Regions from separate parts of the Homo sapiens genome. Here region 1 is linked to region 2. The links come from fine-mapping of genetic effects on plasma protein levels. Region 2 holds a variant in brackets. A gene starts in the other region. All regions are shown on their reverse strands.

Region 1 (5,254 bases), not on the chromosome of region 2:
CATAGAGAGGTGGGGCCTAGGCCCCAGCTTGTGGCCGACCCCGCCCATCCTCGAGCAGGTACCAGGGCCACGTGGGTGCATCGCTGATCGTGGGCGGCGTAGACCTGACTGGACCGCAGCTCTACGGTGTGCATCCCCATGGCTCCTACAGCCGTCTGCCCTTCACAGCCCTGGGTGAGCGCTTCTGTCCCTTCTCCTCGAACTCTGCCCCTGTGACCTTGGCCTCACTCCAAACGGCGTCGCAGCGGTTGACTTCAGATGCTTCTCCTGCCTTCAGGCTCTGGTCAGGACGCGGCCCTGGCGGTGCTAGAAGACCGGTTCCAGCCGAACATGACGGTGAGCGGCCTCTGTCCCCGACTTTGTGGTCGCTGGTGGGATGTGCACCCGGGAGCTGGGGGAGCACAGGACCCTGGCCCAGTGCGGGTGGCTAAGGCTTGTCGGAGGAGGTGACCACTGAAGGGTGAGTGGAGTAAGGGCAGAGAAGTGCGGTCCCGACATAACACCGTCCAATACCAAAGCCTGCACGGCTGGGAGAAGTCGAAGCTCACAGAGGATCTTTAGGAGCCGAGGGCGGAGAGAAGGACCAGTAGGGTCCTACTTATATCAACGTCTGGAGCCTAGATTTTGTTTGGGGTGGGATGGAAGCAGGTGATGTTGCCTCAGAGGTGGCTAAGGCTCAGAGGGAGAAACACAGTGGGGGTTTGGAGGGCAAGACCAGATTGGGTAAGTGGACAGGCAAGTCCCCAGGCTGTAGCCTAAGTTAACAGCAGAGAGAGCCCGTTAGGTCTCACACACCCATCACCGCAGCTGGAGGCTGCTCAGGGGCTGCTGGTGGAAGCCGTCACCGCCGGGATCTTGGGTGACCTGGGCTCCGGGGGCAATGTGGACGCATGTGTGATCACAAAGACTGGCGCCAAGCTGCTGCGGACACTGAGCTCACCCACAGAGCCCGTGAAGAGGTGAGAGCTGGAGATCGGGGACCACAGGGATGTGTGGGGCTATAGCAGGGGAGATAGGGGGCTGCAAAAAGGGGATGGGCCACATGACAGGCCCATGTTCAGAGGCTGTCCCTCCTCCCTCCCAGGTCTGGCCGCTACCACTTTGTGCCTGGAACCACAGCTGTCCTGACCCAGACAGTGAAGCCACTAACCCTGGAGCTAGTGGAGGAAACTGTGCAGGCTATGGAGGTGGAGTAAGCTGAGGCTTAGAGCTTGGAACAAGGGGGAATAAACCCAGAAAATACAGTTAAACAGATGGCTGTGTCATTCTTGAGTGGAATGGGGTGGGCAGGCAGCCAGCAGGGCTCTGTAGCTAAGGCGTCCCTGCAGGGGCCATTACCTACCATAGCTCTAGTGTCTGGCCTAAGAGATGCCCTTCACCCATAACCTCAGGCACCTACAACTCCAGAACCCCAGCCCTGGCCAGCATTGCAGGCTTGGTCTCCACCCAAACCTTCCTTCTGACTCCACACTTGAAGGCTCCCCCACCACTCCACTGTCTTGCTCTTGCCCTCTAGTCCACTGGAGACTTGTAAATTATGAAATACCCCATGTACTACCCCCTCCTAGAGACTTTCCATGGCTCCTCAGTGGCCCAGGACAAAGCTCATACCTTTCAATCAGGCCCCCACAGGCCCCACTGAGGGCTAAAGTGCTGACAAGAGGAGCCGCTCCCTGACTCCAAGGCAAGTTCTCACCAAGCACTCCTCAACCTCGCAACATCTTTACCTGTGACACCCCTTAGATGACGAGGCATGCCTGCACTGCTCACGTGAAGCTCGTCTTCTGTCTGCACATGCTGGGCTTGTGACTCCAAGTTTTCCAGGCTAATAAGGGTCACAGGACTCACATGGGGAGAGATGACACGTTTCTCCAACAAACCTTTGCTGGGCCCCTGCTGAGTCTCAGGCCTGGCTGCTGGGTGCCAGCAAGAGCATCCTGTCCTCAGCGAGAACGGCTGAACTCCGCTGGAGCTTCAGAAATGTCAGGGAGAGTCTACCCAGGGCCCAGGGAGGGTCTATGCCGGGCTGCACATCCCCAGGCCGCTGAGTGTGCTCCCTGCACCCCAACATTCTATTAATGAACATTTGTAAATGTAACAGAAAAGTAGAAAGAGTTGTATATTGAATACCCTTATACTGTCAGGTCACCACAGACCTGACAGTATTTTGTTATATTTGTTTTATCATCTATTCATCCCTCTATCCATTAATTCATCGCTCCTTTTTTTTTTTTTTTTTTTTTTTTTGAGACGGCGTCTCGCTCTGTCACCCAGGCTCTGGAGTGCAAATATTTTGTTATATTTGTTTTATCATCTATTCATCCCTCTATCCATTAATTCATCGCTCCTTTTTTTTTTTTTTTTTTTTGAGACGGAGTCTCGCTCTGTCACCCAGGCTCTGGAGTGCAGTGGCGCAATCTCAGCTCACTGGAAGCTCCGCCTCCCAGGTTCACGCCATTCTCCTGCCTCAGCCTCCCGAGTAGCTGGGACTACAGGTGCCCGCCACCACGCCCGGCTAATTTTTTTTTTTTTTGTATTTTTAGTAGAGACGAGGTTTCTACTGAACCTGTTAGCCAGGATGGTCTTGATCTCCTGACCTCATGATCCGCCCGCGTCGGCCTCCCAAAGTGCTGGGATTACAGGCGTGAGCCACCGTGCCCAGCCAATTCATCTCATTTTTTGGCTGATGCTGTTTCTTTGAGATGGGGTCTAGCTCCATCGCCCAGGCCGGAATGCAGTGGTGCACTCATGGCTCACTGCAGCCTTGAACTTAAGGGCTCAAGTGATCCCTCCTGCCTCAGCCTTCTGAGTTGCTGGGACTACAGGTGTGTACCATCATACCCAGCTCATTTCTTAATTTAAAAAAATTTTTTTTGTAGAGACAGGGTTTCATGATGTTGCTCAGGCTGGTCTCGAACTCCTGGAATCAAGCCTCCTACGTCTGCCTCCCAAAGTTTTGGGATTACAGGTGTGAGCCACCACACCCAGCCCTGATCTGTTCTTGAATCAGTTAAAGCCCTCACACTCCCAGAAGGCCGCCAGCCAATGCACCTGTTGGAACTTTGCACACAGGGTGTCTTCTCCCTTCAAGCTTGGTCTGCAGCTCAGTAACAAATGGGCTACAGACACCAGGGGCTTGCCCATGGGAGCCCCAAGGCCTAAAGAGGGTGGCAGAGATTTGATGTCTGTCACTCTCCACCTGCAGCCTCAGTCCACGGTCGGCCAGGCACCAAGAGCTCACACTTTGCCCTCCTAAATGCCAGGCCCTTCATAAGTATCATCTCATTGTTAAGAGCGGAGGCTTCAGCGCCAGACAAATGCGAGTTTGTGTACAACTCAACCACGTGCTGGTGGGAGAGTCACCATCTCTGAGCAGACCTGTGACTCCTGTTCCAAATGGACGAGGAACCACTGCGATGATGTGTTAGGACTCCCAGCCTGCCAGAACCTCACAGCCCCTGGCCCTTCACAGCAAAGTTGACCGCAGTGAGCATTCCATCCACCAGTCAGAACACCCTGGACGCTGAGCGGCCTTCTCTGAAAGCCTGGTGCCTTTGTTAGCCCTGGGTGACTCCTGTGATCCCAGCCACCAGGTTGTCACTATAGACCTAATTTAACCATCTGTCCTCAGTACCGAGGGCTCAACATTTGGAATGGGAGGTGGTTCTGGGAGCCAATTAGAGGCCAGGCTTTGGGAGGTGGCAGAGGTGAGTCTCACACCTGGGCTCTGTCTGATAAGTCTAGGTCTCGGTCAGGGGACCTTGGCCTAAAGGGCCTGTCTTGCCTGGAGCGTGGGAGGGGGCTGAGTCTACACAGCTGGCCTGGCCTCAGGCCTGGAGCTTTAGCTCAAGGACGAGAAGACCCATAAAGCCAGACCCAGCTCCCAACCTCACATCTGCCACGATGTTGCTGCTCAGCCTGACCCTAAGCCTGGTTCTCCTCGGCTCCTCCTGGGGTGAGTGGGCCAGGACCAGCCCTGATTCAGCCCTGGGAGCAACTCAGCTCCCAGCAACAGCCCAGGGAAGGAGCTAGGCTGGCTGGAAGGGACGAAGGTGGACAGAGTGGGCAAAAGAAACAGGATATGCCAGGGCAGTGGAGCAGGGAACAGGCCTGCAGGGCTGGGAGGGGGCAAGAGGTGGGGTGGTCTCACAAATAGGACCAGAGATTGAGCCAGGCCCTGGAGCCCGGGAGGGTTTAGGAAGCTGAGACAGGAAGACCTGTCCATGTCTTTTAGAAAGAACCTTCTGGCTGCATGAAGGGTATGAACTGTTCAGGTCGGGAGGGGGCAGAGAGACCAGGGGTAGAGATGGGGAACAGCGGGGACTAGGCTGGAGACAGATGTAGGAGAACAGCAGGGCTGGGGGACTGGGTGGATAGGGATAACCAAGATAGCTGTGGGGCCCGAAGGTGCTTGCATGTACCCTGTTGGGGAAGGGGTAGTGCTGTACCCTCTCGACAGACCTCTCTGGGGTGCACAGCCTGGGGCACCCAAAAGGAGGTGGGGAAAGATGGGCTGAGGCATGGGAAGCAGGTCCTCATTAGCCCAATGGCCAGGCTGCGGCATTCCTGCCATCAAACCGGCACTGAGCTTCAGCCAGAGGATTGTCAACGGGGAGAATGCAGTGTTGGGCTCCTGGCCCTGGCAGGTGTCCCTGCAGGTACACCACCAGAGGGGTGGGCAGGGTCCTGGGTACGTCATGCCTAGGGGCAGCCTCAGCAGCCCACCCCCACTCTGACCTCTGAGCCCTGACCACAGGACAGCAGCGGCTTCCACTTCTGCGGTGGTTCTCTCATCAGCCAGTCCTGGGTGGTCACTGCTGCCCACTGCAATGTCAGGTGAGTGCCTGCATTCCACCTGCCCCGCCCCTCGCCTCTTCCTGCCTCCTCCCCTGGCTGTCCCCCTCTCGCGCTGGCCTCCCTGCAGCTGCCTAATCCCACCCCCTTGCAGCCCTGGCCGCCATTTTGTTGTCCTGGGCGAGTATGACCGATCATCAAACGCAGAGCCCTTGCAGGTTCTGTCCGTCTCTCGGGTGAGTGCCTGGGCTGCAGACACGGAGGAAAAGTGGGCAGTGCAGGTGGGTGGGTGCTGGGAACGAGGAATTCAGGACATGCCCTGGCCTACCCTGCTCAGCACCCATCAGAACATGGACTGTTTCTGACCCCACAGGCCATTACACACCCTAGCTGGAACTCTACCACCATGAACAATGACGTGACGCTGCTGAAGCTCGCCTCGCCAGCCCAGTACACAACA
Region 2 (10,578 bases):
GAGATGATGTCTCATTGTGGTTTTAATCTACATTTCCTTAATGACTAATGATGTTGAGCATTTTAAGTGTTCTTTATATATTCTAGATTCTAGTCCTTTGTCTGACGTGGTTTAGGAATATTTCCTCCTAGTCTATTGTTTGTCTTTTCACCTTTTACAGAGTATCTCTTTTTTTTTTTTTTTTTTTGAGACGGAGTGTTGCTCTGTCACCCAGGTTGGAGTGCAGTGGCTCGATCTCGGCTCACTGCAAGCTTCGCCTCCCAGGTTCACGCCGCCATTCTCCTGCCTCAGCCTCCCAAGTAGCTGGGACTACAGGCGCCCACCACCACACCCGGCTAATTTTTTGTGTGTTTTTAGTAGAGACGGGGTTTCACCGTGTTAGCCAGGATGGTCTCGATCTCCTGACCTCTTGATCCACCCGTCTCGGCCTCCCAAAGTGCTGGGATTACAGGCGTGAGCCCCCACGCCTGGCCAAGTTTTTGATTTTGATAAAATACAATTTATCATTTTTTTCTCTTTGGGATCATGCTTTTCATGTCAACTCTGAGAACGCTTTGTCTAGTATGATCCATATATTTTCTTCTGTTTTATTTTTAAAATTTTATACCTTTATATTTTATATTTAAATTCATTGCCCATTTTGAGTTAATTTTTGTATAAGGTATGTCAACTAGGTTAAGGCTAATTTTTCTGTGTCCATCTATGGATTTCTTTCTTTCTTTCTTTCTTTTTGAGATGGAGTCTCGCTCTGTCACCCAGGCTGGAGTGCAGGGGTGTGATCTCAGCTCTCTGTAACCTCTGCCTCCCACGTTCAAGTGATTCTCCTGCCTCAGCCTTCCGAGTAGCTGGGATTACAGGCACAGGCCACCACACCTGGCTAATTTTTGTATTTTTAGTAGAGAGGGGGTTTCGCCATGTTGGTCAGGCTGCTCTTGAACCCCTGACCTTGTGATCTGCCCGCCTTGGCCTCCCAAAGTGCTGGGATTATAGGCATGAGCCACCATGCCCGGCCGCATCTATGGATTTCTAATTGCTCTGTTACTATTTGTTGAAATGCTATCATTCTTTCATTGAATTATTTTTGCCCCTTTGTTAAAAATCAATTGAGCATATTTGTGTGAATCTGTTTCTATGTTCTCTATTCTGTTCCATTTATCTCTAAGGCTAGGCTTCCACCAGTAACATGCAATCTTGATTGTTGTAGTTACGTAATGCCTTGAAATTGGGTAAAATTGCTCCTTTCATTTTACTTGACTTTTTCAAAAATTAATTTAAATACCTTATTTTTTATCCATTTTCAGACAAATTTTAGAACAGTCTTGTGTATGTCTATAAAAAAATCTTACTGAGATTTTTATATGTCTGTATAGCAATTTGGGGAGAATTTTTATCTTTACTATGGCTGAGTCTTTCGATCTATACATCCATTATGTCTTTCCCTTTATTTAGAGCTTTGATTGCTTTCAGTATTTTGTGGTTGTCAGCATACAATCTTGCACATGTCTCGAAAGCTTTACTCTTAAAGTTTTTTTAAAAAAACTTTTTACTGATGGTGAATTGTATTTTTAAGTCCTCATGTGTTCTTTGCTAGGTCATATAAATACAATTAATTTGTGCATGTTTACCTTATATCCTGCAAGTTTACCTTATATCCTGCAAGTTTGATAAACTAACTTATTATTCTTAGGAGGATTTTTATTTTGTAGACTCCTTGAGTTTTTCCATGTGGATAATCGTATCACCTGTAAATAAGAACATTTCTTTCTAGATCTGTAAGTCTTTTATTTTCTTGTTCACTGGCTAGACCATCCAGCCTATGTTGAATAGGGTGATGAGAAAAGATATCCTTAACTTGCCATAGGGAGAAACATTTAGCCTTTCAACATTAAGTATAATGTTAGCTGTAAGAAGTTTTTTGTGTCTTTTTAAAGATACATCTTATCAATTTGAAAAAATTTTTCTGTATCCTTTTTTTCTGAGGGTTATGAATTAGTATTGAGTTTTGTCAAATGCTTTTTCTCCATTGATTGTTATGATCATGTACATTTTTCATCCTTAGTTTGTTAATAGGGTGTATTACAGTGACTGGTTTTCAAATATTGAACCAGCCTCACATACCTGGTATATGCCATATTTGGTGATGGTGTACAATTCCTTTTATATATTGCTGACTTCTACTTGTTAATTTTTTTAAGGATTTTTGCATATATTCATGACAGGTGTTGGTGCTTAGTTTTCTTTTCCTTTCTCTCTCCTTCTTCACGGTTGTCTTCATCTATGTTGGTGTCAAGATAATCCTAACCTCATTAAAGCAATTGAGAAAGGTTTCCTCCTCTTCTTTACTGAATAGACTGTGTATAATTGGTATTAATTCTTCTTTTAAAAGTTTGGTAGAATTGACAAGTAAAACCATTTGGGCCTGGAGATTTCTTTATTTTTTTTCTTGAGAATTTAAAAATCATAAATCCATTTTCTTTAAGAGTTATGGAGCTAGCAAAATATCAGAATTATCTTTTTCATACTGGTGAATTGTCATAGTTGGTGTTTATTGTAATTTGTGTTTTTTGAGGCATTAACCTATTTCATCTAAGTCATCAAATGCATACAATTGTTCATAGTTTCCTCTCATTATGTTTATAATGTCTGCAGGGTTTGTAGTGATATCTCCTAACTCATTTTTCAGATTAGTAACTTTTGTCTTTTCATCTTGCAAATCAAAAATGCAGCCGAGAGAATCTTTACTCAATGAATCACTGGTGCTTGAAGTTGAAAACCTTGTGTTTGGCCAGACATGGTGGCTCATGCTTGTAATCCCAGCACTTTGGGAGGCCAAGGTGGGTAGATATCTTGAGGTCAGGAGTTCGCAACCAGCCTGGCCAACATGGTGAAACCCTGTCTCTACTAAAAATAAAAAAATTAGCCAGGCGTGGTAGTGAGTGCCTTTAATCCCAGCTACTCAGGAGGTTGAGGCAGGAGAATAGCTTGAACCTGAGAGGTGGAGATTGCAGTAAGCTGAGACTACACCACTGCGCTCCAGCCTGGGTGACAGAGCAAGACTCTATCTAAAAAAAAAAAAAAATTCTTGTGTTTGTGTATCACTTTCACACCAGTGTAATGTTGAAATATGATAAGTTGAACCATTATTAAGTCATGGATCACTTGTATTTTCATTTTCATTCAGTTCATTGTGTATTTTTCCTTTGAGATTTCCTTCTTCACATTTAGATTCCTTAGAAATGTATTGTTCAGTTTGCAATAACGTATATTTTGCAGCTGTTGGTGGAGTTTTTTTAATAAGTATTGATTAGACACTGTTGCTTGATGGTGTCTTTATATTTCCTTGCTGATTTCTCTTTAGTTGGAGTATCAGTTGTTGAGAGGGGTGTTAATATTTTCAATTAAAGTGTAAATTGGTCTGTTTTTCCATTTTAATTTTTTCAGTTTTAGATTCACATATTTTGCAGCTCTGTTGTCTGATGCATATACATTTAGGATTGCTATGTTTTATTGGTTTATTGAACCTCCTATCATTATACAGTTCCCTTTCTATCTTGGATTTATTTCTTTATCTGATATCAACATAGCAGTCCTTTGTTTCCATTAATATTTTCTTAATATATATTTTTCTTTTTTTTACTATTAACTTACCCGTAGTCTTAGATTTAGATTTTTTTTTGTAGACAGTAAATGATTGTGTCATTTTTATTAATCTAATCTGCCAATTTTCATCTTTTGATTGGTTATGTCTTAGTCCATTTTGTGATATTATAACAGGGTACTCAAGACTGGGTAATTTAGAAACAATAGAGGTTTATTTGGTTCATGGTTCTGGAGGCTGGAAAGTCCAAGAGCATGGCATGAGCATCTGATGAAAGCCTTCATATTGGGTCATCCCATAGCAGAAGTTATCTTGCGATAACTTACCCATTCCTGTGATAATCACATTAATCTATTCCTGAGGGTAGAGCCTTCATAACCTAATCACCTCTTTAAGATCCAACTCCCAACACTGTTACATTATGGATTAAGTTTCCAAACATGAACTTTAGATGACACACTAAACCACAGCAGTATATTTAGATCATTTGCATTTAAAGTAATTATTAATATGTTAGAGCTTCATTCTGTCATTTAATGTTTTTTTATCTATTTGGTCTCTCTGTTTTTTGTTTTGTAGTTTTCTTATTTCTGGCCTCTTGTGGTTTTCTTGAATATTTTTAAAAATTCATTTTTCATTCATTTGTAGGGGGTTTGAGTACATTTCTTTGTGGAAACTCTTTAGAGATTCCTCTAGATATTGAATTATATGTATGTAACTTATCACAGTTTACTGGTTGTGATTTTACCAGTTCAAGTGAGGAGTAGAAATCCTATCTCCCTTTAAATTGTTTTATCCTGTTCTGCTTATAATCATCCTAAATATTTCCTCTCTATATATTTAGAACTACATGAGACAACGTTATAAATTTTACTTCAACAGTCAGATAATTTATATATCATAAAAAGAAAAGGAAAGTGTATAATATTTACCCATTTTTTAATTATGTTGTTTCTTTTTTACTCATGTCCTAAGATTCTTACTTGTATTTTGTTGTTGTTGTTTTGCTTAATGAACTCTCTTGACCCATTATTTTAGAGCAGGTCTGCTGGTGACAAGTTCTCTTCATCTTTTTTCATCTGAGAATGTGTAGATTTCCCCTTCATTCCCAGAGGATGTTTTTTTCTGGGCATAAGACTCTGGGTTAATAGCTCTTTACTTTACTTGAAAAATGGTGTGCTACTTGCTTCTGGCCTCCATGGTTTCTGATGAGAAATCCACTGTCCTTTCACATGTTTTCTTCTATGGGTAAGATATAATTTCTCTCTTATTGCTCTT[G/A]TGATTTTTTTTCTGCACCTTTGGTTTTCAGAAGTTTAATTATATCTGTCCTGGATCTTGTTTTTTGATCCACTTTGAAAATCTCCTTCTTATAATTGATATATTTAAACCATTGACATTGAAAGTGATTGCTAATATAGTTGGATTGACAGCTACCATATTTGTTACTGTTTTCTAATTGTCGCCCTTCTTCTTTGTTCCCATTTATGTCTTTTACTCTTTTTCTGCATTTCGTGGTTTGAACTTAACATTTTAATATGACTCCATTTTCACTCTTTCCTTAGCATGTCAGTTATTCTTTTTTTTTTTCTTTTTACCTTTGTTTAGTGGGTGCCCTAAAGTTTGCAATATACATTTACAACTACTGCTTCATGTATAGTGTGAATATCTTATAATAACAAAAAATTGTAATTACTCCCTCTTGTCCCTTGTATAACTGATGTCATTCATATAAATACATATATGTTTATGAATAGATAAATAGATCTATACATATATGCATAGATACATAAGCATCTGTAATTGAATATATTATTGCTATTATTATTTTGAACAAAATATTTGTTAGATCAGTTAAGAATAAGAAAAAACAATTTTATTTGCTTATTTTTTCTTTGGTGTTCTTTTCTTTGTATAGATCTGTTTCTATCCTACATAATCTTCTTTCTCTAAATAACTTATTGTAAAATTTCTTGCAAAGCAGGTCTACTGGCAACAAATTCTCTCAATTTTGTTCATCTCAGAAAGCCTTTCTATCTCCTTCACTTAAAAAAAAATTCTATAGAGTACCTAATTCTAAGTTGGTAGCTTCTTTCTCTCAACACTTTATCTAACTCCACTCTCTCCTTACTTGTATGATTAGTGAGGAAAGGCTGGATGTAATTCCTATCTTGTCCCTCTCTCATTGGGAGGGACAGGAGTGCCTTGCTATTTCTTCATTCATGACCTCCACTGATACCACAGGGTAGAGGATGGACCAATTTTTGCCAGGTAATGATGAAAATCTTGAGTCTTTATTAGGCCTTCTTTTGACCTCCTCAGTGGGGAGTGGGAGGAGCACCTTTCATTACTATTCTTTCAGAGTAAAAGTCCAGGCTCTCCATGTGTTCTCCCCTGACACCAAGGGGAAGGCAAGACTTATGACTGCCTGATGGAGATGAAACTCTTGGTCTCCTACTCAACCTTCTTTGACATCACCCCAGAAAAAGATCTGGGCTCCGTGATTACATCCAGGTTGAAGTTTAGGCTTCCCACCTGTCTTTGCTTGTGAGACGAGGGGCAGAGGCATATTATTTTCTGTGAGTTTTTACTGGAGTATAATATCTATTGTCTAAAAGTGTGTTTGTTTTGTTTTTGTTTTTGTTTGTTGTTGTTTGTTTTTTTGTTTTCTGGGTAGGTTGCCCCTTTCCTGGACTTTTGGCTAGAGAGAGTGGGCTTTTATTTTGGCCCCTTTTGCCTGTATTCATTGGCATTTCTGGATTGCTAGCTTCTTCAGCCCCAAGTCTGGGACATATGAGACACAAAGAAAAGTGAGGGAACTCACTTCTTTCTGGTTTCTTGGGTCCTAAGTTTCATAGCCAGTCTGCCTTTTTCTCTCTACCTTTCAGAGTCTTCTCATGCTTGCATTATACATAATGTGCAGGATTTTTCATTGAGCTTAGAAGGAAAAGGAAAAAGTACATTCACTCCATCTCAGAAGTGGAAATCTCTTTTATTCCTTTGGATCCAGAGATACATGAACAAAAAATATTGAATTGTGTTATTATATAGATATTGTTAAATTCAAGACTAGAAAAATATCTTCTGGCCTCACATCTTCAAATTTTACTTCCTCAAATTCTCAAATCCTGACACTTATCCCAAATTTATGTACCACAGATACAAATATCTGATAGACATATTTACCTGGATGACCCATCACCACCTGAAAGGCATCACAGTTAACTAGGATAAACATCTAAAACTGAGCTCAGTATTTCCTTTCTATCTTCAGATCACAGTGATTTATTTTCTTGATATTTCATTTTCTGTTCTTAGTGCTACTCTTCTACCACACACTCAGCCTCAAAAGTCAGATCAAATCTCAGTGATATCCCCCTTGAATTTCTCCGTACACTTATGCATGGCTTTATATTTATAGTGCCACCACATTAGTTAAGATTCTTTGTCATCTAAATATTTATGTCACTCTCAGGTACCTGTTCTGATTCACTTTACAACATATTAGTCTTCATAAGTCAAATAATCAGCCAGTGGCCTTCTTATCTCCAAATGTTTAATTGTTTTGATCTTTTGAGGATCATTAAAAAACTCTTCTGCAAAGAGAAGAGTTTCTCTGATCCTTGTAGCTATAGGAGAGCACCACTGCCAACCATAATTCTGAAAGACACAGTCCCAAATGCCATAATTCCAAATGTTGCAATTCCAAAAGATTAAAATCTCTAACATCTAAATTCCCTAATATCTAAAATCTCAAGAATCAGAATCTCAAATTGTTAAAATCTCAAATATCAAAATCCTGAAAGTCAAATTATAAGAAAGGGTTTCCTTGAGGTTGTAACTGTGTGTAGGATACTGGCTTCATATTGGTGGCATCATAGTAGGCAGAACTGTTGCTTTCTTATTGCATTTGGTGGAAAATTCAGATGAGTAAATTGCATTTGGTGGAAAATTCAGATGAGTAAATTGGCCACAATGGCAATGACAAAAATATCAGCTTAAAAATGTGTCACTTGTCTACACTGACATCCCTTTCAGTTGATAAAAATTCAGGAGCTTTTATTGAATTAAAGCCACATTTGCCTGAAGAAGTCAGCAAAGTCACTGACTGGTTAGAAAATAATTATGTCCACAGTAGGATAAAAAGGTTTTAACACAATTTTTGCTGTTTGATTACTTGTACTGTTTCTGCCGAATTTGGGGTCTCTATATAAGTACATGGGAAATGGATTCCTGTATACCCCAAACTACATAGAACCATGACGCAGAAGACAGGAAAATTTAATAGGGAATGCTCATGTTGGTATATATTGAATCGTAGAAGAATTTCATAAAGAATAGCGTCATGTAGAAAATGAATGTGAATATATTCTCCCAGGAAAGCCATGCCCTCAAAGATAAAAAGCAGCTATTCATTGCAATGCAAGACTTATTAATCATAGTTAATGATTATCAAGGCTGGCCAGCCCTTAGGGACTACCTTCATGAAATTGTTCCTAATCTATCCCTGTGATATGCATTTACATATGTCAGATTTTATTTTTAGCCAGTTTTAGGGTTTTTTGTTTTGTTTTTTTTCCTGTTATCCCCGCTATTTTAAGTTGTTAGCATTATTTTGTATAACTTTTATGCTATGTATTTCATCTTCACACCATTTCCAATACTGGTATATATTTTGTAAAGACTCTTGAGAGTTCTAAATCATTTATTCTGTTTTTGGCAAATTTGACTCCATAAAAGTACAGTATGAGAACACTGACTTTGTGTATAAGCATTGTGCACGTATGTAAAAACATTGCCACATGCTAGATAAATGAAGAGATGTCCTTTTTGTACATCTGCGTTTGTGAAAAACAAAATTTCTTGAGATCTTGGCTCTTTGGGCAACTGCATATGCAATGATGACCTATCTTTTTTTTCAATTGATCTTGTCAAGAGACTTAGGATGTCTATCATGGTATCTCAGATGATCACAATTATAAAGCTGGGGGAACATAATTAACAACCATAATGATAGGTGTTTATACATTTTGCTCTGAGTTAATAAATAAGACAAAAGAAAATAATTTGCAAAGTTTTTCTTTCTTCGTTTACTGTCATTTCTGTCTCTTTAGTCTCTTTAAAGTGATAATACTCAACCCAAAAGATTTACAAATATATTAAACTACATGACAGGATATTTATCAAATGAATAAAATGCCCTCCCATTCCCCAAATGCCCATCAATGATAGACCTTATCCCAAATGAATAAAGAAAATGTGGCACATATATACCATGGAATACTATGCAGCCATTAAAAAGGATGAGTTCATGTCCTTTGCAGGAACATGGATGAAGCTGGAAACCATCATTCTCAGCAAACTAACACAGGAACAGAAAACCAAACACTGCATGTTCTCACTGATAAGTGGGAGTTGAACAATGAGAACACATGGACACAGGGAGGGGAACATCACACACTGGGGCTTGTTGTGCGGTGAGGGTGTAGACGAGGGATAGCATTAGGAGAAATACGTAATGTAGATGACGGGTTGATGGGTGCAGCAAACCACCATGGCACGTGTATACCTATGTAACAAACCTACACATTCTGCATATGTATCCCAGAACTTAAAGTATAAATTTAAAAAAATTGCCTAATAGAAATGAGGAAGGCAAAATCTAAAAATATCTCTTCTTTCGTCAGTGAAAAGGGCAAGTATATTTCTGTCCCTCTAAGGTATGAATGGAGCATGAAGTCTGAGATGATGTAATCAGTGACAAAGAACATCATCATCCAACTCACTGGGTTCCAAGTTGTCTCTAGGCAACCACAATATAGCCACATTAATATATCAATCAAAATATGTAATTTTAGAAGAGCACATAACCTTTAAAGAGAGTAGCAGACAAGGTTTTTGCTCAACAGTGACTCATCTTAGTAGATGACTTCTTTTTTGGATTCAACCAAGGAACTCTGAGTAAGTTTGCTTTGCCACGTCCCAAAGAAACCAGGGGTAATTCTCATTCAGCCTTTGCTGTGAACAGACACTATCGGGTCACCTAAGAAATAGCAATTTGTGGGTTCCTGCTTTATGCAATGATGATCTTGGCTTGCGCAACCCAAATAGAATGTGCCCCAACTCATGAAGTCAAGGCAATGTGGTAAACAGAACCTGTGCCAGCAGGACATCATTTCAACACCCCCTGGCATATAAAGCATGTTTGGGCAGGGGCATACACATCATAAACTCTATTTTGGTATGGACAACCTGGGAACTCAGTGATGACTATGTCATAGAACCATTAGCTTCATAGAGACAGCCTCTGATGTTACTTTAAGTTAGCCACTTATTAAACTCCTGAAAAGTCTCTGGAACAAATTATATTAAGACATGAGCAATGTTTAAAATCATCTAGAAACAAAGTAGATGTAAAGTGTTAGATGAAGGGGCTTAAATAAAGCATTTGTATGATATTGTCATTGTGGCGATGATGGTTGGCTTCTAATACAAGGTCTCCTCCGCAGTCCTGTCCACTTCCATAAAATCTACCTAAAAATATCCAGAATTGCCTTTCAGGTGTCGATAAACTCTTGCAATATTTGGTACTCTGCTACTGGATATTGCTTTGTAACAATTAGAATTATTTGACCTTATGGTTTTCCCTTAAGGCCCAGATGAAGTATCTTGAAGGTTTAAGAGAAAATGTGAGTTTCTTTCCTCAAGCACGTCCACAGGATATATTTCTATTGAGCGCACTCCAGTGTGGCTTCTAACAATATGGCTAAATGGCCATAACCTGAAATGCAACACATATATATGTGTGTATATATATCTATATATATATATATATATAGATATATATCCCTAACACTTTAATAAACGAGTATTTGACCTATCACATTATAAACTTGTTTGCCATAGTAATAATTTAATGCCTACATTTTGTAGAAAACTTTTCAATTAATATTGAGTGCTCAAGGGCAGGGCCAATGAATGAC

Direction of the effects. Positions count from the first base shown, and alleles are read on the strand shown. Strength reflects both the effect of a copy and how common the allele is.
As copies of A replace G in region 2, the plasma level of the protein whose gene starts at base 3,894 in region 1 goes up (weak association).

Evidence for each region. A credible set is the group of variants that fine-mapping cannot tell apart. PIP is the posterior inclusion probability: the model's chance that the variant is causal. Protein levels are from antibody-based Olink assays in UK Biobank. Linkage for the fine-mapping came from a reference panel and not from the study's own genotypes, which makes the PIPs less certain.
Region 1: it holds the start of CTRL, and the variant in region 2 is the best candidate, but not a certain one, in a credible set for the plasma level of the CTRL protein (UK Biobank, PIP 0.68).

Annotation. Positions count from the first base shown.
Region 1 is chr16:67,930,502-67,935,755 of GRCh38, reverse strand. It overlaps CTRL (chymotrypsin like), which reads left to right and starts at 3,894. Exons shown (of 7, transcript NM_001907.3): 1 at 3,894-3,955; 2 at 4,555-4,658; 3 at 4,757-4,836; 4 at 4,949-5,030; 5 at 5,168-5,254. The coding sequence starts at 3,904. It overlaps PSMB10 (proteasome 20S subunit beta 10), which reads left to right. Exons shown (of 8, transcript NM_002801.4): 5 at 59-174; 6 at 278-336; 7 at 808-959; 8 at 1,085-1,250. The coding sequence ends at 1,196. RefSeq lists enhancers at 137-336, 4,403-4,919, 4,920-5,254.
Region 2 is chr17:71,207,410-71,217,987 of GRCh38, reverse strand. No RefSeq gene overlaps it. Among named protein-coding and RNA genes, the nearest start is that of CASC17, 11 kb to the right of the region's middle. The variant G/A (reference allele first, on the strand shown) is at 4,877.